2 separate regions of the Homo sapiens genome follow, and region 2 is linked to region 1. A link means that fine-mapping ties the variant in region 1 to the expression of a gene that starts in the linked region. Tissue or cell type: whole blood. Region 1 holds a variant in brackets; the other region holds the start of a gene. All regions are shown on one strand. Distances are between the middles of the regions.

Region 1 (11,022 bases):
ATTGGCATTTGACTCTAAATTTACTTTTCCAGAGCTTTCAAAGTTTCATCACCTCCTGCTCCCTACACACTTTTACATTTTGTACTCAGTTGTTGCACTAATATGGTCAGTTACACTGCATCCCTGCTAGTTTTGGAGGTATCTTTTTTGTCCACAGTTGATTTTGCACTCCTGTTCTCTGATTCACTGTGATTGATTTTACAGTTTAGCTCTCAAGGTGAAATTTATCTTCCTGCCACTCAAAATCCTCAATTCTTATAGCACCTATTTCAGACATCACTAGTTTTCACATAATTCTGAGAAAGAATGAGCAATTCTAAAGTTCAGTCAAGACTGATTATGTCTTTTGAGTATATTTATAAATATGAATTTACATTTTGGAAATAAGGATCCATTAATTTATTCAACAAATACTGAGTACCTTCAGAGTGATAGACATCATATTAAAAGATGGGAATAAGCTGACAAAGTGTAGTTTCTACTCTCAAGTAACTTGAAGTCTGGATGTAAAAATAGAATGTTATGTAATAAAGTGACATCTTTTCTGAGTGATATGCTTATATTATCGTGACAAGGTATACAAAGAAATGTAAATCAGCCTGAAGGAAAGAGAAATGAAAAAGAAAAGAATAGAGGAGTCATACTAGAAAGACAGGTAAGTAAGGTGGTTTGGGGGAATTACTTTTCAGTGTTGGCTAAGTTTGAGGTGACTATTGAACATCCAGTGGGCAACTGGAATGTGTTTCCATAGTTCATGAGAGCATTTTGAGCTAAAGGGTATAGATTTTGGTGTCATAATTATGTAAATTAAAACTGAAAATAAATAATGTGTATGTGAATAATATGCATAAGAATAAATGGAAGAACCATGGGTGGAATCCTAGGGAATACCGATATTTAAGGAGATCGATAGAAAAAATAGAACCCTGGCTGGGCATGGTGGCTCACACCTGTAATCCCAGCACTTTGGGAGGCCAAGGTGGGCGGACCACGAGGTCAGGAGATCGAGAACATCCTGGCTAACACGGTGAAACCCCATCTCTACTAAAAATACAAAAAATTAGCTGGGTGTGGTGGCGGGCACCAGTAGTCCCAGCGACTCCCAGGCAGGAGAAAGGCGTGAACCCGGGAGATGGCGCTTGCAGTGAGCCGAGATTGCACCACTGCACTCCAGCCTGGGTGACAGTCTCAAAAAAAAAAAAAAAAAAGGAAAAGAAAAAGAAAAAGTAGAAACCTAAAGTTGGCTTAAGGAGTACAGTAAAAGACTAAGTTGTGTGATGTCATTGAAGCTGTTGGTTAGGACAGTAAGATGGGAGAAAATGGCCAAAACCATGTACTATAGAGAAGTTAAATATTTCTATGGACTTTTTTGTGTCCCCATGGGAAAAAAAGATAGTGACATCAGTCCTAGGTGTAGAAACTTAAACATGTTATTCACTTCTCCTCCACGTGGTATTCAGAGAACAGCATGTTGCTATCACAAAACTACAGGGTATCATTCAGAGAGTGAATTTATCTTATGAAATATATGGACACAAAGACCAAAGAACTGAGATTCACACTAGGAGGTCTTTGATGGCTGGAGATGTAAATTAATATGTATTTGTTTCTATCACATAGTGAGGTCTTCAGTACCTCCTTAGTTCTTAAATGCTTTCAAATCAAATTGAATCAAACAACTGATTTCACACTCATTCCTCTTATAGCAATGGAAATTGGTGTCTAGAATTGCCTGCTGAACTAACTATTAAGCCTTGCACTCCCCACTCTACCCCAAAGCAGAATTGGGGGAAATCAGAATCCTTTTAGAAATTGGAGCCTGGCAAAAGAAAGATTCACTCATTCCTATGCTCATTTGTATTAAAGGTTTTCTCTTACAAACGTAGCTGCAAAATTGTATTATGTAGAAATATTCATTCAAGAGTGTAGAGTGAGTTAAACTATTTTCCATGTTGGAAAATGGTGAAAGACATTTTTCTGCAATCTCATTAAAAGGCCTTTAATTTTATTGTCGTTTTCATCCAGGACACTGTAGGTAAATTTGAGGGCATATATTAGAAAACCCATAAAAGAGGTTTATAAAGAAGTTCATAATCACATCCTGTTTTAATGCCTTTTGTTTGGTTTAACTTTAAAACTGATTGAAAGTTACTTAAATGGCCAGAAGCTTTCTGTTGTTCCTAAAATTACGCTAACATGGAAAGTGCAGGCTGATGTGCAGCAGAATTTCAAGTAAATTAATTTCAATTTTCTCAGAAGGAGGTTTTGCATTATGAAAAAAGTTTCTTATTTCTCTGCTCCTGAAGAAAAATGAACAGATGTAAATTTATTTGTGTAGTTCCAATCAGTCCTCTGCAGATTTCCAATTACTGTGAGTTAAGAATTATTTCCTAGACACACCAGGAAATATAGTAATATTGTCTTTCACTTAATTTACTTTCTTTCTTGTACAAAACCTAACTGTGGTTTCCCCTATATGATGGAAAAGTTACTTAAAGTGTAATTGAAGTTTGAAGGACATCTGGATATTTAGATGATAGTGAATTTAAAAAATGAATGTGTCATCTGCTGCTTATTTTTTCTTACATATTATTTCTACTAAATAATACATTATTTCTATAGCTAAATTATATCACTCATTTCTTTCAATTCTTTGCTTCAATGTTACTCTCTGAATGAGGCCTCCTAGCCAATTCTATTTAAATTAGCAACCCATCTGCCTCTCTCAGACTTCTGTTCCCCTATACTTTATTCTTTAAAACATTGCATGTATTACCTTCTAGTGAACTATATAATTTACTACCTATAATGACAAATAATGATATTAAAATTAATGTAAACCTAGTTTACTTTGTATATTGCTAAAATGTAAGCTTCACCAAAGCATTGTTTTTATATATATTCTTAGTGTCTGCAATAGTGCTTAGCATATGTGTTCAATAAATAATAGTTGCATGCACATTGATTTAGGTACATATGTTTTCCTTAAATTCCTCATGTGTGAAGGGTGTACATAGATTACTTTAGAATCTTTCCTTCTCTCTTTCTCCCTTCTTCTCTCCCATTTACCCCTGCAGAATTAAAGAATACCTAAGGATGCCCTTTTTGCTTCACATCTCCATTGCTTTTAATCATTGTGCCTCTCATTTCATTTTGCACTTAGCGACCCTATTGTTACAGATGATAAGCTGAGGGTGTTTCATGGCACAGGGTTTGGGTAAAAGTGATGCCATCTTGCTATTCTGATAATAAGGAGGACAGTGTGAGGAAATGTCCAACAGCCATCTAGCAATAGAGAGACAGATGGAGCCTTGTTCTAGAAACCACATGTCATCATCAGACTCAGAGAGTAGGCATGCACTTTTCTTTTCTTTTTTTTTTTTTTGAGACAGAGTCTTGCTCTGTCGCCCAGGGTGAAGTGCAGTGGCGCCATCTCGGCTCACTGCAAGCTCCACCTCCCGGGTTCACGCCATTCTCCTGCCTCAGCCTCCCAAGTAGCTGGGACTACAGGCGCCCGCCACCACCCCGGGCTAATTTTGTGTATTTTTTAGTAAAGACGGGGTTTCGCAGTGTTAGCCAAGATGGTCTCGATCTCCTGACCTCGTAATCTGCCCTCCTCGGCCTCCCAAAGTGCTGGGATTACAGACGTGAGCCACCGCACCCGGCCCAGGCATGCACTTTCTTTAACAACAGAAATTTCTGGTTAGAACAATCCAAGTTGTCTTAAGTCTACAGGGTGACTGGGTTTTAACTGCACTGTTATTCTAAGGACAGCCTTTAAAAGATGGTATTGTGTTTGAGTGTGTCCCCTGTACATTTGCCTGTTTGAAATAAAATTTCTTTAGAAAAAAATCTCTAAATCTTCAAAGACCAACTTTAGTGTTAGGTGCAAACCTGGGCTGCAAAGTGTGTACTCAGTCTCCTGAAACTGGGTGTTGGAGCAGAGTGCAATTTTTTTTTCTTTTTTTTTCTTTTTTTTTTTTTTGAGACGGAGTCTCGCTCTTGTCGCCCAGGCTGGAGTGCAGTGGCGCGATCTCGGCTCACTGCAAGCTCCGCCTTCCGGGTTCACGCCATTCTCCTGCCTCAGCCTCCCGAGTAGCTGGGACTACAGGCGCCCGCCACCATGCCCGGCTAATTTTTTGTATTTTTAGTAGAGACGGGGTTTCACCGTGGTCTCGATCTCCTGACCTGGTGATCCGCCTGCCTCGGCCTCCCAAAGTGCTGGGATTACAGGCGTGAGCCACCGTGCCCAGCCTCAGAGTGCAATTTTTAATCAAAAGCAACAATCGATGGCTTGGAAAAATAAGCAAGTTGGCCATTTCTTACGCCCTGTTTTTTTGTTGTTGTTTTGTTTTGTTTTAAAGAAAAGTCAAGGGAAATAAGACCAGTAGCCTTATTAAATATAAGGGTAGAATGAATAGAAAAGAGAATAGAAGCAAGTGCTGCTGAGTGTATTTGCCAGTTTTCTCTTAATTTGGCATCTTGATCCCCAGACCTCCATCATTCTGTCAACGTCTCTCAGCCCTTTTTCTCCATTCTTCAGCCTTGTCTACCAATTTGGCTCCTGCTTCCATGACTGAAGCCGCTAAATGATGCCTATGGCAATGAATTGCTCCTCATTCTCTATGACCACTGAGTTCAGTGAAGGGGGCCATTCCTTTTCTGCACCAAAATTAAATCAACAAATGCAACTTTAGAAAGATTGTTACAGGCCAAGCTCAGTGGCTCACATCTGTAATCCAGCACTTTGGGAGGCCAAGGCACGAGGGTCACTTGAGCCCAGAAGTTCAAGACCAGCCTGGGCAATATAGTGAGACCTTGTTTCTATTTAAAAAGCAAAAATAGCCAGGCCTGGTGGCAAATGCCGATAGTCCCAGCTACTTAGGAGGCTGATGTGGGAGAATTCCTTAAGCCCAAGAGACTCAGGCTGCAGTGAGCCATGCTTATACCACTGCACTCCAGCCTGGACAACAGAGGGAAACCCTACCTTAATTTAAACAA[A/C]AAAAAAAAAGATTGTTATGAATAGTGTTTTTCTTCTAATTCTGAAGTATTCAGGATAAACCTTCAAGTGAATTGTTGCTAAGTTGAAAAATCTATTCCAAGCAAAAAAATATATATATAGCTTCAGACTTTCATTTTTGGAACTCATCTTCCTTATTTTTAACTTAGAAACTGCTTGTATGACCTAACACCTATTCCCGCTGGTCCATAAGATACATGATACCTTTTCCCCTTTCATAATTTATTGCTTTAACAGCAGACTTTCATTAGTGCACTGCTGTTAAGGGACAAAGAAAACACCCACTTTGTTGAACATTTATGTTTAAAGTGAGTGCATTGCACTAAATCTCTGTGTGCCCATGGGGTCATCTCTAACCCAAATTATAACCATATCTGTGATGGAATCTTGCCGTGAAGCTTTTTTTTCTTTTTGTAATTTTTTTGAGTGTGTTGATTTCTGTAGAATTCTCAAAAGCTATTTTTTTTTTTCCTTTTTTCTTCCCTCTGCCTGAACAAACTTGTTTAAGTTAGGTTTTCTGGCTGTGGACTTCCATAGTGTATCATACTATACCAAAGCATTCAAAGCATATCAACTCAGCATTGGCGCTGCTTTTTAAATAATTTATCTTTTCTAATCATTAAACCTCCATAATGGTACTTTCAAAATATGTTTTGAATGAATAAACAAGTCAGTCTAACTACATTGAGTTTTACTGAGCAAGAAAGGTTTTGGCCTATGCTTGTATTCCAGCGTAGGAGTTCCTCTGCAGTGGTTACACACTCTCCAACTGATAGGTGTTTCTTCTCCAAGAAATTACATAAAGATTAGACGTCCATGTTGGATAGCACCTGCAAATAGCAAAGAATAGATAGTAAATCAGTATATAGGTTTAAAGTTAAATCATTTGTGGTTAGTGCCTTTAACTTGTGTTAGATGCTTTTCATTTCTTAATTTTGTTTGTTTTAAATAAAAATTCTCCCAGAGGATGAAGGAAATACTTGAAAGAGATTTGACTGTGATTCCAGAAGATATATATGGACTTACCAGAGTCATATTTGTTTTCATGGGAAGGGTAATGGGGAAAGGGGAAAAGTTGCTTTTTTAAAATTTTTTAAATTAAATTATCTGGCAACCTTGTACTTTGGAGGCAGCTCAGTGAAATACTTCAGAGCATGTCTTTGGCTTTAAACAGACTTGGCTTCAAATCATTCATTTATTGGTCCTGTGTCTGACCTTAGGCAAATTATTTAATCCTTATTCTTCATCTGCAACATTGGGTTGAGTTGCATTATATAATATAAGAGACGTTAATATAATGTCTAGAAATTTGATATAATTATATGATAATAAAATCTGAAGAGTTTGTTAGCTGGTAATTTTATTCTATTTCTTAGTGTTCCCTGGCTATGCCATTTTGGGGCTATGTCTTATCTCACTGGCAACCACGTCCATGAAGAGGAGTGAGTCCAAAGCACAAGAGTAACTCAAGGAAACCCCTTTATAAGTGTATTGGTTGTGATGCATTTCTTGGTAAAATAGAGGTTGACTGTCATTGGGAGGCTGCAGTTTATCTCACGATGCAAATTCAAGATGCTTACATGTTGGGAAGTGCATGTATAAATAAGAAAAGAAGAGAAATTTGTTGACTGAGATAATTAAGAAGCAGTGTGTATATGAACCAGAGAGAAAGGGCGGGTATTAATACTAAGCTAAAAGCAGTCACCTATTCCCAGTGTTGGTGATTTGAAGCCTGATACCTCTGAATTTGAATCTCATCTTGAGTCTTGACAGCTACATTATCATGGACAAATTATTTAAATTCTCCCCCTTCATTTTTAGACTCTAAAGTAAAAAGAATAATAATTGCTATTGCTAATTGCAAGGGTGGAAAGAAATAATATGAAAAACTTAAACCCCAAGTATTAATCTTTATTACTTCCTGTTGAGTACTGTTTTTAAACTAGGAAAATATATTCACACCTATTATTTTGACATGTGGAAGAAAATGTAGTCTTAGTTATATATTCAAAAGGTAGGTACAAAGTAAATTATGCATATATGAATATACAATGTAGTTCTCCGAATCCTAGATCCAACAATAACAACTAGCTGCATAGACTTAAGTTGCTTAACCATTCTGATCTTTGAACCCTTCATTTTAAGATAAGGTTGATACCTTTATGGGTTCATTGTGAGAAATACATAATAGTTGTAAAGCGTCTTATTCACCACCTGTCACAAAGGTAGTAATGGACTAATATGGAACATAAAGGCTTATTTAGATGTCATAGTCCATGTTCAATCTCAGGAGAAGCCTCTTTGTAATGAATACTCCATTTAATCAAGACTTCACAAACTTTTAAATAAATGATACTGTAGTGAGGATATGTTTCTCTTTCTTTAGACTCTTAAGGAAAAACTCATATAAAAATTATTTTCAAAAGCTGCAACTTGTTATTTCTCTAATAATGTTAAAGAATAACGTTTTTGGCAATCCATCTGAAATAATTAAAAAGTCATTTAGATTGAATGCCTACTGTTTCATATTTAACAGGTTAGAATTTAAAAAAAGAACTTTATGAAAGACAGTGGCATTATTATACTTTATTTAGTTGTCCAAGTCTAAACAAAATTCAATTTAGAACAAATAATTAGGTCTGTGTCAAAAGAAGGATACCAGAGAGAGGGCTTAACTGTATTTTCTGACACCTACTTTGCAGTTTTGTGACACAAGTGACACACTCTGAAACAGATTTCAGCTTTGGAGACCTATGTAATAGAATCATGTGCCCTTATTTACCTAGTTTATGTGTGGCATGGTGGTGGTTTTTCTGTCCATCTCCTTTTTTCCATTTTTCTTAGTTCAATGAAAGTATAGAGCAGGGAAACAACTAGTTCAATACCCTTCCCAGTGGAATTTAACTTTTTTTTTTGAAATGGAGTCTCGCTCTGTCGCTAGGCTGGAGTGCAGTGGCACAATCTCGGCTCACTGCAATCTCCACTTCCCGGGTTCAAGCAGTTCTCCTGCCTCAGCCTCCTGAATAGCTGGGACTACAGGCACATGCCGCCACGCCCAGCTATTTTGTTGTTGTTGTTTTGTTTTCTTTTTTTGTTTTTGTGTTTTAGTAGAGATAGGGTTTCACCAGATTGCCTAGGCTAGTCTCGAACTCCTGAGCTCAGGCAATCCTCCCGCCTCGGCCTCCCAAAGTGCTAAGATTACAGGTGTGAGCCACTGCGCCCAGCTGGAATTTAACCTTTTAAAGAAGGGTACATCTTTTAATTTTGCTCACAGTACATATGATATGCAAAAATCACATAGAATAACGTAGCAGTATTTTAAAATATGTATTCAATTATGCCTTTCACAGCAAGTGTGTTAAGCATTTTTCTAATAACTCGAAAGTACGTGTTTTAAAGAAAGTCGGTCATTTACATTTGCATCCTCTATTAGTGCTTTTCTATCCAAAACACTCTTAGTTAAAATGTCATTTTTAACCAGTATTTAACATAGTTTAATTAAGGAAAAGAGAAAGGGAGAGAAATAGAGTATATGATTTGAGAAAAAAAAATATGAGTAATGAGAATTCTTTTGCTTGGTCCTCGAATACAAAGTCTGCTATCCTAAGATAACCTAAAAGTCACAGAAGTGCTTCATGAGACCAGAAACTATAGCTTTGTCTCTGGTATCTCCCGCGGAGCTCAGATTCAATAACTTATATCTCACTGAACTTTTTTTTCTGAGATGAAAATCCTACCTGTTTCTATTCTACTTAAAAATTTCTGAGTTCACCTCTTTCTAGTATTTGGATATGAAAAGGATTCATATGCCTTAAAAAAATACTACTAATGTCATTGTTCTTTTGGACAAACTGATATCTGTGACCACTCTGATGTCTAGGAACTTAATTTAAGAGTTCCAATTTCATACACCTATTACATTCTTAAATTATTTAATTTTAATTAAATATTTTAATTCCAAGTTTTATTCTTGGCAGTTGTCTAATCTGGTTATCACTCAAAACCAGACAACTCATACTTTGTATTTATTTGAATGTAATTAAATGAAGTTTTTATTAAAATTTCTCTATGAGCGCTATATTTGATGTTACATATTTTATAACTTTATATATACATACACACACAGACACACACACACACACACATATGTATATATGGTTTGTCTTTTTGAGATGGAGTCTTGCTCTGTTGCCCAGACTCAAGTCCAGTGGTGCAATCTTGGCTCACTGCAGCCTCTGACTCCTGGGTTCAAATGATTCTCCTGCCTCAGCCTCCCTAGTAGCTGGAACTACAAGCGCATGCCACCATGCCCTGCTAATTTTTGTGTGTGGTGTTTTTTTGTTTGTTTGTTTGTTTTTAGTAGAGACGAGGTTTCACCATGTTGGCCAGGCTGGTCTCGAACTCCTGACCTCAGGTGATCCACCCACCTCGGCCTCCCAAAGTGCTGGGATTACAGCCATGAGCCACCACGCCCGGCAGCATTATACATTTTTAAAAACACGAATAATGCATATGGCATTTTGTCAGTTGGGAAGAGGTTGGTTGTCAAGTGATAAGAAACCCAAAATAACAGTAGCTTAAACCAGTTACACATTTTTTAAATCTGTCTTTTAAAAAGGGAGTCCAGAGATGTGCAGTCCTTGCTGGTTGGACAGTTTTATAAAGGGCTTAGTTTCCAGGACTTGTGTGTTAGTTTTGGTTTGACCACTACCTCCCTCAACACAGGACTTCTGCCTTACAGCTAGCAGCAAAGAGGTGGGGTAAGGGAGGAAGTGCGCTCCTTTCAGGTGATTTCCTAAAGCAATGCAGGATTCTTGTGCTGCTCGTGACATGACCAAACCTGGCTGCATGTTTGATCGTGGTTCTTTTTATGTTTTCAGTTCCAACACAGTGGCTAGTGCATATTAGTTACTTAATTCCTAAGCTCTTGTGTCTCTCTAAATTTTGGAATTACTGTAATTAATTCAAGTAGTAGCGACTTATTTACAGTAAGTGAATTTAAAAAGGATTTTGAATTTAATTCCTTTTATTGCCAGTGTAGTCACTTGAGAATTTTGACTCATATCTATTTTATCAAACAAGATTTGGGAGCATTTGTGTTTCATGAGTGTACCGTGCTATTAAATTATCAGTCCTGTTGAATGATAGAGATTAAAGATTTATTTTTCCAAGTGTCATATTATAAATGTTGCTTAAAACTAAGCATAATTCTTGGGAAAAAAGTGAGCAAATGTGTCTGTGTAATCACATTTAACAATTAAGTTATGTAAAATCTCATTACTAAAGCCATTAGCTAAATAAGCAAATTTGATTAGGAAATTTGGATTAATGCAAAGTTCAAATATGACTGCAACCAATGTTGGTTCATTTCAGTTTGCAAATTTCAAATGCATAAAAAACCTTAGGAAAAAATGTGAGTATCTAAAATTTATGTTTTATCTCTGAGAAAAAAAAAAAACCCTTAGTTTCATAGTCCTTATGTGTGTTAAAGGACAATCAAACGAAATGAAATTCAGAAACATCTTTTAGTTTAAAATGAACATACTTCTTAAATAACTGGGTATTAAAAATATTTTGTGAATCATTGCCTATAAACATTGTTATCTGACTTATTTTGATTATTATTTTTTTTGTCCAGGGAATAGCCAGACTATTTATTACTGAAACTCATTCTTGGTAATATAGTCCTAATTTTCATTTGTCTTAGTTTTTTAGTTTCCCAGATGCTTCCTACATAGATTTTGTCATTTTATTTTCATGAAGCCTGTTATTATTGCTATTGTTAGGTGAAAAATGCTATCCTCTGTAACTCTTGAGTTTTCGTACACATGGCTTGATCTGTCTGGAATGCTCTTGTCGGCATTCCTGACTTGGTCCTTTTTTTTCTCGTCTTCTCTAGGAACTTCACCTCACCTGTTCTCTTGGGTAGGTGTTCCTTTCATGGGTTCCCAAAACACCTTACATTTTATCATGACCCTCTCTACACAGTATTGTGATTGTTT
Region 2 (9,272 bases), 260 kb before region 1:
GAAACCTACATTAAATTATAATAGAAAAATTTGTTAAAAGCAACTGGATTTCTCAAACACAGCTAGGTTTTCAGCCTTCTGTTTATCAGGGAAGGCAAGATGTGCCATTTTACAGCCCATCTCCCAGTCACCTAGGCTTCCAATTCAGAGGTATTGGGAGGTGGGGAAAGGAGAAAACGAGGAGATGGAGGAGTGTATAAAATTTATTTAAAACTATTGGAGCCATGGCTGGGCGCAGTGGCTCATGCCTATAATCCCAGCACTTTGGGAGGCCAAGGCAAGTGGATAACTTGAGGTCAGGAGTTCAAGACCAGCGTGGGCAACATGGTAAAACCCCCGTCTCTATTAAAAATACAAAAATTAGTCGGGCTTGATGGCACACACCTACAATCCCAGCTACTGGGGATGCTGAGGCAGGAGAATCGCTTGAGCCCGGGAGGCAGAGGTTGTAGTGAGCCAAGATCGGGCCACTGCACTCCAGCTTGGGCGACAGAGTGAGATTCTGTTTCAAAAAAAAAAAAAAATTAAAAATTAAATTAAACTATTGGAGCCTTAAAAATGAACACAGCTGTGGAAAAGGCTTACAAGCTTTTAGCATGTGGAACCCAAAGCTCTCTAATATTTTTACATATCTGAGTCCTCTTAATAACTGAAGAGACCTGTCCATGTGACTCCCCTTCACGGGTATTCCTGCAGACTTGATGTATTCTGAAAAACTGTGAACCTGCTCCCTTCCTCTCTCCTTGGTTAATACTTCACGATCTTTAACACTAACGACAAACAATAAATCAGCGATGAAAATTTTTGGATTTTCCAGCTGTTACGTAGTTTCTCCTAAGCACATTTATTTTGTTCATTTATTAACAATCTTTTTAAAGTTTCTTCTCCGTGTCCAGATGTTATAGGCTCTGGGTTTTATGTGGAAAAGAAGACTGACAGGATCCCTGACCTCATGGAGCTTCCACTCAGTGGTGCTTCCAGATACTAATACATACTATGAAGAAACTAATACATGGTGGTTGGATAGAGATTGATGGGGGAGAGCCTACTTTATTTCTGAGGTTATGCCATTTGAGCTAAGACCTGAATGGTGAGAAGGAGCTAGAGAAGGTTTGAGGAGAAGAACCTCATGCAGGAGGAAGAGAAAGTGGTTAGTTCCTGAGAAGGATGTCTGTGTTGTACACATATGAACACAACATGAAGCGGGAGGGGTAGTCTGGGCTAAATGAAGGCTTGGCTGGCCATGGTAAGAATTAGTTTTATTAGCTGTAAAACAGGAAGTTGTTGGACATTTAAAAATACAACAGGAAGTTGTGGAACATTTAAAAATTGGGAATGTATAGGTTTTCAAAGGAAACTTCTGCCTAAAGTTAAAATTGGGGAAGGGAGGCATTGCAGGGGTAGAAGTACGGGGACCACTTAGAGGGCTACTGCATTTGTCTATGCAGGAGATGAGGGCAGCTGGGCTGTGGACTCAAGTAGTAAAGATGTGATAGGATGTGTTTTGGAGGTAACTGTCCAGGTTTTTGTTAACAAGTAAAATGAAACGAGGAAGCTAGAAAGCATAGTAATAATGATATACTAGCTAATACTTCTGTAGCACTTTCCTGGTCCCTTTTAGATATTTTACATAGGTTAACTACTTTAATACTCATAATAACAGTACTCATAAGATAAGTACTATTATTATCACTGTTTCATAGATTAGAAAACAGAGTCACAAAGAGGTTGAACGACTGGCCAAAGATCGCCCAAATAGTAATAGCAGAGTATGCACTCAAACTTAAACATCTGATCCCACAGTATGTGTTCTTCCTTCAGTGTTCTAGGACACCATATACATATTTTATATATACTATATATATCTCAGCATGTAAGTGCATTGGAGAGACACAGAGCATCAGGATGGACTAACTGATATGATTTTCAAAATTTTCAAGTGAGCAAAGGTTATGGAGGAAAAGGGTAAAAGATCAGTCCCTACCTGTAAAGACATAATTCCTTTTATTTTTGTTTACATATATTTGTCCAGGGCACAAAAAATGTGCTACTGTGGATGGCATAACAGGTATAATATTAATAAATATTCATCATTTTATCTGTGTGTATCCAATACAGATTTCTCAGATTTCCTTGTGAAATCAGGGAAATATGTAGCTTTGTTCTACAGAAGCCCAGACCACGGTATTTTCTTTCCAGGCCACTGCTAGACACCCAGGGGGCTCAATTTCTTGCCACAGTTTCGGAGAGCTTGCTGGTTAGGTGCTGCTCTTGGTTGGAACCAGTCGGCCCGCATGCAAAACAGACCTGTCTTCCACACCTTGTGGTTACTATGCAGCAGGGGGCGCTGCAGTAGTGTACATCGCGGTGCACCGGAGCTACTCTCCTGGCCAGAAAGCCAACAAGCCGGGAGGAGGCGTGTCAGGCAGCCCTGGGTCCTCTTTGGTCTTGCAACTTTAGTACCCAGAGCTTGTTCTACACAGACCATTCTACACCATATTTCACCATGTTGGATGCTTTCCATCCAGTCCTGCCTCCGAGCGGAAAGGAAAGGGCATTAGCTTACTGCCTTACTAGGTTTAAGTATAATGCTGTACCGGCTTGCACTAGAGGTTTCTCTCCTGTGTTCTCAGGGTCAACCCGACAGTCCCTCTGAAACCACGAAGGGGTCCCCGGGCAGTTGCTGCGGGGTGTGTGTGTGTCTTTCTTTCCCTTTTTGGGGTCCTTTCTTTTTAACCTTACTGAAGGAGGAAACGTTTCTCTCCCTACACGTCTTTCCACTGACATTGTGGCCAACCGTAGGCTAAGAGCTGAAATCTCTCCTTCCTAAGTTGCCTCCAAGCTCTCCAATACTACCTCCTCCCCCCCATTTAGTCTCACACACAGTGTGCGTGAGAGATCGCCAGTGAGTTTGTGACAACCGAAGCTGCAGCAGTCGCCAAACCTGTTCTTCCTCTCCCGGTCTCAGAAGTCTCTCCAGCTGACCGGACTTACGCCTGGCAGCTCTTGGCACACACAGCGCTGTGGCTGAGATTCAGCCGTGCCAGGCGCTGCCAGGCAGCAGCGGGGCGACCGACCACCTCCTCCTCGACCTCCTTTCTCCCAGCTTCCCCTCCCAGGGTGCACTGTATCTACTCCTTTGGGCTGTCTTCCAGCCGTCGCCCTTGGGTCCCGGGGGCTTTCCAGAGTGAAATCGAAGGTGAAAGAAACAAGAGGACGGGAGGCTGGTAGGAGGAGCCTCCAGGCCGGGGAGGGTGGGAGGAGCCTCCAGCCCGAGGGGCAGGGTAGGAGGAGCCTTCCGGGAGGATCTGGGTGGAGAAAGGGGCTGGGCCAAGCCGGGATGGAGGGTTGGTCACGCAGGCGCGGGGGGCCGCGTCGAGAACCCCACGCGGGAGCTTCTGGAGTCTCCAGCCACCGCTTCTCACTTCACTGGAGAAGGGAGCTGGGGCTGGGGCTGGGGCTGGGGCTGGGAGGGAGCTAATAAACATTGAATGTGCAGCAGCTGCCTTGGCGGCCGGAGTCCGCCCGAGCGACACCGGAGCAGTGCGCCCGGGAGGCGGCGAGGGGAGGCGGTTCGCCTTGTCCCTCCCACCCGCGCCTCTTTCTCTCTCTTCCTCCAGCTGGTCCCAGAGCCCGGCTTGGTCCGGTCCCTCTGCCCCCATCCCGCACCCTTCCACCTCCTCCGAGTCCCACTCCTCACCTAGGACGCCCCAAACTGCCATGGGTTAGGGTGGGGATCGCGACCCGCGCGAAAGACCAGCCCTGCGCTTCCGCCGGGGGACGCGGAGCCCAAACGCCGCTCACCGCTTGCGGGCGCCGGGCATGGGGAGTGTGGTGTGAGCCCGCACCCGGGGAGGACGCAGGAGCTGCGGAGACGGGCGCGAGGAGGAGGAGAGGAGTCGTGGATTGGAAGGACCCGAGGGAGGGAGGGTGGGGAAGCGAGGGAAAAGTGAAGCTGGGAGGAGAAGGCGGCGGAAGGTGGAGATTGATGCTTCTGTTTTTTGTTGCCGCTGCTGCCCTCGCGCTGGGAGCCGAGCCGGAGGGAAGGCGGTGGAGAGATGATTGCAGAGTTGGTGAGCAGCGCTCTGGGGCTCGCCTTGTATCTCAACACCCTGAGTGCGGATTTCTGCTATGATGACAGGTAAGGGGCCGAGAGGAGGGGGCGACGGGCTGCAGGGGGCACACTCCGCAGTGGCTCTGAAGCTTCCCTCTTTAAGGCTCAAAGTGCGTCTTGGAGGAACTGGTTCAGCACCTGATGGTTTAGGCGACACGTAAACATTAACACCTAAATCAAACACCGGGGACGTGAGGCGCGCTGGGCGGGCCGAGGGAGTTTCCGCTCCTAGTTTGCAGCAGGTTCTCTCCCTTGCTTCTCGGCTGTTGGCAGACGCTTGAGTTTCTTAGCGGAAATCCCGGCAATTTGGGAAACTGTTTAATGAACGTATTAAATTAAAGTCTTAGGTATTCCTTGATGCAACAAAGCACATTAAGTGATTTTACGTCTGGTTGGGAGGAAGCCTCTCCTCGATCCCTGATAGATCCTCCCTGTCCCGTTTCCTTTTATTGATGGGACACTTTTATTTCCCGAAGTTAAAACACACGTTTGATAGTTGCCAAAATTGTGAAAAGGGAGATCGTTCTCTGCTTTAACTTTCCCTTTTAACGTGTATAGACTTTTACTTTGAGCCAAAATAATGCTGCTGATGGTCTCTCCCGCCGCCCTAGCCTCCTTCACCAATCCATTGGGCAGCACTTTATAAAAGCCTCGGCTTTCTCATTTCTGTTTGGGAGTTGTACATTAGATGTTAGTGGTTCTTTTGTACTAATTGGAGAAGAAGACGCCCCTAGAGACTGAAGTTGTCTTCTGCACTTAGGTTAGTTTGGGTGGCTAATGAGACCTGAACTGTGTTGTCAAAGAAACTGCATCGATTTCTGGAAAATGTCACCGTTGTGTTGGTGTCTCTTCCTATCTTTTAAACGTTATTAGTGTTCAGAAAGTGATGAAAAGCCCCTATATCCATTAGGGAAAATTCCAATTTGTGTCCTTCCGGTGTCTTAATCTGATTACAATTAAAACAGATGCATAATTAAAATATATTAGGGATAACAGCACGCCTGGCTAAACTTATTAACCGTCCTGGGGTGTTTCATGCTCCATTGAAATTAAACCATCCAAAAAGTGAGCACAGATTTACTTTGACAGCTTTTCAGCAGCCTCTCTGAGCTATGAAAAGTGAATGGATCCCCAGGGTTAGGGCGAGGCAGTGAGAGCACTTACGCAAAGTGGTTGACAGTGAGGGGAGGTGAAGGCAGAATCTTCTTCTCGTCGTAATTAGCCACATTCTGTATTCTCTGGTGTGCCCATTCTCCTGCTAAAAGCATCTTCACATCTCTGTTAAAAAATCACCTGATAATAGGTGCCAGAACATCCAGCAAACCCGTCTTAATGCATTTTATGTAGTGCCTACCAGAGGCTAGTTGATAGGGAACCACTGTTAGACATACATTTTTTCTTAACTTTTACGCAGCATACTGATTTTAGCAACTACACAGCATGCTCTGAGAAATGGTCTGTAGGAGTGAGGTAAATTTCTGTTCTCTCCAATTTTGTGTAATGGTGCACCTGCTATTTCTAGCATATTCGTGGAAAAAGCCCTTGTTTCCAAAGATGGGTGACTTTTCACTAAAACCAGCTTGGGTCAGTGTGGGCAGTTACTGGCTCTGTTGGGGGCGGTTTGAATAGTAAGCATTTAAACCAAGAATATAGAGTTTATTTAAAAAAAGAAACTTACTATAATAATGCAACTTGATGGGTGACTTTTCACTAAAACCACCTTGGGTCAGTGTGGGCAGTTACTGGCTCTTGGGGGCAGTTTGAATAGTAAGCATTTAAACCAAGAATATAGAGTTTATTTAAAAAAAGAAACTTATTATAATAATGCAACTTGTTATAGAACACGGTGGTGAATCAAGTATTCCTATTGTATGCCCTTGTTCATTGCTGTCTAATCCTTAAGAAAATACACATCAGAAGAAGCCATTCTTTAAAAATTAAGGTTAAATTTGGATATGCATTTTTCTATAGGTATAATTGTTCTGTGCTCTTGAGTCATCAGAAGTGTTAGGACTGGACCTTGTAACTTGGAAGAATGGTGTGAGTGTGATGATAAATTAGTTGTGCTTTGATGGTTGGCAGTTGTAAGTTTTTCAGATGCAATAGTCTAATGGAGTGTTAAAATTCGTGACTTCTATCTTGTAGCTACATAGGTGAATATAGTATGATTATTTGCCCATATGATTTTATTGATAGCATGCTCAATATGATGTCTAGATAGTATATATTGATAAAATATTGAGGGCCTGTAACTGTGAATTATACTTTGCTACAATTTGAAAAGTGTATTTTACACTGATTTCTTAGCAGAACTACATATGCCATCACATATTCTTAGAATGTGAAATCTTAAGAGCAGCAAACTTTGTTTTTATGTATCCTAGAAATTATGAGACACATAAATAGGAGCACTGAACTTATTTGTTGTATGCACAGCCTGTTCAAGTGATTCATTGTGAAGTTACACTATAAATTGTGGCTTTTCTGATATATTTTCTATCTAACTACTGTAACTCACTGGTGTGTGAAGGGGGAGGAAAGCTGGGGAGCCAAGTGTAAACTGTAGGATGATGATAATTTGTTTATTTCCGCTACTACATTTCAGATGCAAAGATTCATGTTTAAAACATTGCTTAAACTAGACCTGTGGATTCTGCTGCCCTCCAGGAACTTTTGTGAAATCCAGTTCTGTAAGGAGAGGCCAGTGCCAGAAGTGAAGGGAGAAGCACTCAAGGGAGATGGCTGTTATTCCTGACTTGCTTAACTAAATCATTATTGCTGTGGTACTTCTCAAGGTTATCATTTCTTTTAAATATAGTGATCGTTTACTTTATAAACTATATATAATTTCTTTCCATGTTTGATGTAGCTTGGTTGAAATTAAATGGTAACATGAAACTTTCTTATAGCACAATCAATTTCTCTATGGTAAAATTTAATATTTTACAAGTGTTTCTGTGCTAAATTTAAGAATATGCCTCTGATGTGATGAAACAAACAGTGGAGGAGAAGAATTCACAGTATCTGATGAAAAAGGGTATGTGGTTTCAGCTTCATCCTCCCTCCCCTTGCTTTCAATCTAGTATTGAATCTTAAGTTGTGGTTAGAGGAAAATTGAAATTAACAATATGCAGTCTTTGCCAAATTTTAAGTTATGTTGTATGTGATTCCTTAAAGGATTTTCTCTTATTTTCTGGAGAAATTTGGTGTTTAGGTCAGTGGTAAAACTTCTCTGACCCAAAACTCTCTGCATTCTTACGCATTTGTTGAGGATGACATGGCATCACTTTTTTCTTATCCTTTTTAATAATACTGTTATGAGTTTCTTATGGAGATAACACCATGAGAGGAGTCAGTTTACTTCAAAGCAGACAAAGGTAAACAAACCATAACTGTTCTAAACTTTAGAAGTCTGATTTCACTTAGCACATATCTTCTAATTGGTGACATGCCCTTTTTATACATCGACAAGTAAATAAGATAATGCAACTTTTACATGCTTTAAATTCTCATATGAGTAAAATAATTTATTAGTTTGCAAAGACAATTTGCAGGTTTGGAAGTAGAAAATATATTTGCGACTCCTCTGAAAATTTATTTTCTTATTGCCCATTTTGCATTTGTTAAACTCAACCAGAATCATTAATGTTACCTGTAGATCTCTTAGCTATTCCACTGTGCAGTAATTTTTTGAAACTTGGAGAAACAACTACACAGCAGAAGTTTCTACTATGGAATTAAAATTACATCAAGCTCTTAATAATTCACTCCTAGTTAGCTTTTCATTTGGGTATAAATGGAAATCTCAGTTTTTATAAACACATGAGTTAATTTTTTCTTTATAATGATTTTAATATTATTTAAAATGAAGGAATGGAATTTAAGTATATTAACAATTTTTTTAAAACCTGCATTCTTTCTAAAGATATTGAACTATTATTTCTGCTTGATCTTTTAATGTTATTGTTAGTTTGGGTTTTTTGACCTGGTATGATAGGAATCCCTCGTGAAATAATCACTCTGTTAACTTATCTTTAAAAAGTTCTCTCTAATAGACTTGTCTTTGACCAATCTGAGATTGTTATCTTAAGATTCCAGCATGTGTAACTACTGAAGGCAGGCCTGGTATTTAGTAAAAAGCATGTTTAGAAAGAATTACTATATAATTAAGTAAGGGAGAAGCTCTCTTTGTATCAGTGGTTGTCTTATCAAGTGATTATTATAAGAAGCCACTGTATACAGAAGTATGGTCTTACTCTTCAGTTTCCTTCCCAGTTTTCACTGGAATACAAGTTAGAGTTTATAAATTATTTTAGGTGGCATTTTATTTTCTAACTACATTTTGATTGTTTAAACAAACCTATTTGGAAAAAGTTCATTTTGCTGTTTTGAATAAGTATATCTCATCAATAAATTAAAATTAGGTGAAGTCAGTATGAACCGCTTTACCTCCATTGAGCCTGTCACATGATGTTTATCATAGTAATTGACCCACATACATGCATTGAATGGACATGTGCAAATGCCACAGGGAAAATTGCCATCTGTCTCTTAGTTGTTTTCATACACACATACACACACACATACATGCACGATTATTACATTTACATTGGTGATTCTATGGGCTTTTGTTTTGTCATCTGCACTTAGTTCTTCAGTGCTAATGTGCCCCTGTTGTTAATACTGAATTCTCTTCTGCTATAATTTTGAAATAGCAACAACCTTTTGCATTCCAGCATGCATTAGGAACATAGTTTGTCTTTCTAACAGTTTTGTTGCTGCTCAGCACACTAAAAGCACTTTTCAAAAAAATGCCTCTGGTGGTACAACTGTCTTTCGTAGGCTAAAGGTGCGTTGTCTCTAAAGCAGGAACCTTTGTAATATTAGGAAAGGATGACGTTTACCCTTAAGGCTCTTTGAAAAATCTGTGGCTGACAAACCTACTTTCTTATAACTTTATTATACTCATCTGAAGTGCTTTTAACACAGCAACTTTCATCTGTTAACCTTTCTGGTTCTCTCTTAGGAGCAGAGTATTGTATCAGCTTTGGATACTTATTTTAATGGCTTCACAAAAGTGACAAGTGTGGCAGCCTCCAAGGAAAGGAACGGTGGGTTATTGAATGTAAAGACCTCTCCTCTATAAATAGCTGTCCTC

The links. PIP is the estimated chance that this variant, and not a neighbour inherited with it, causes the effect.
Region 2: it holds the start of TMTC2, and the variant in region 1 is fine-mapped to the expression of TMTC2 in whole blood (TOPMed, PIP above 0.99).

The regions. Positions count from the first base shown.
Region 1 is chr12:82,943,375-82,954,396 of GRCh38, forward strand. The region is part of intron 4 of TMTC2 (transmembrane O-mannosyltransferase targeting cadherins 2); the gene reads left to right. Among named protein-coding and RNA genes, the nearest start is that of TMTC2, 260 kb to the left of the region's middle. The variant A/C (reference allele first, on the strand shown) is at 5,002.
Region 2 is chr12:82,683,529-82,692,800 of GRCh38, forward strand. TMTC2 (transmembrane O-mannosyltransferase targeting cadherins 2) reads left to right here and starts at 3,378. Exons shown (of 12, transcript NM_152588.3): 1 at 3,378-4,141. The coding sequence starts at 4,059. RefSeq lists silencers at 2,329-2,408, 3,259-3,358, 3,929-3,978, 4,339-4,398 and enhancers at 2,839-2,988, 3,009-3,218.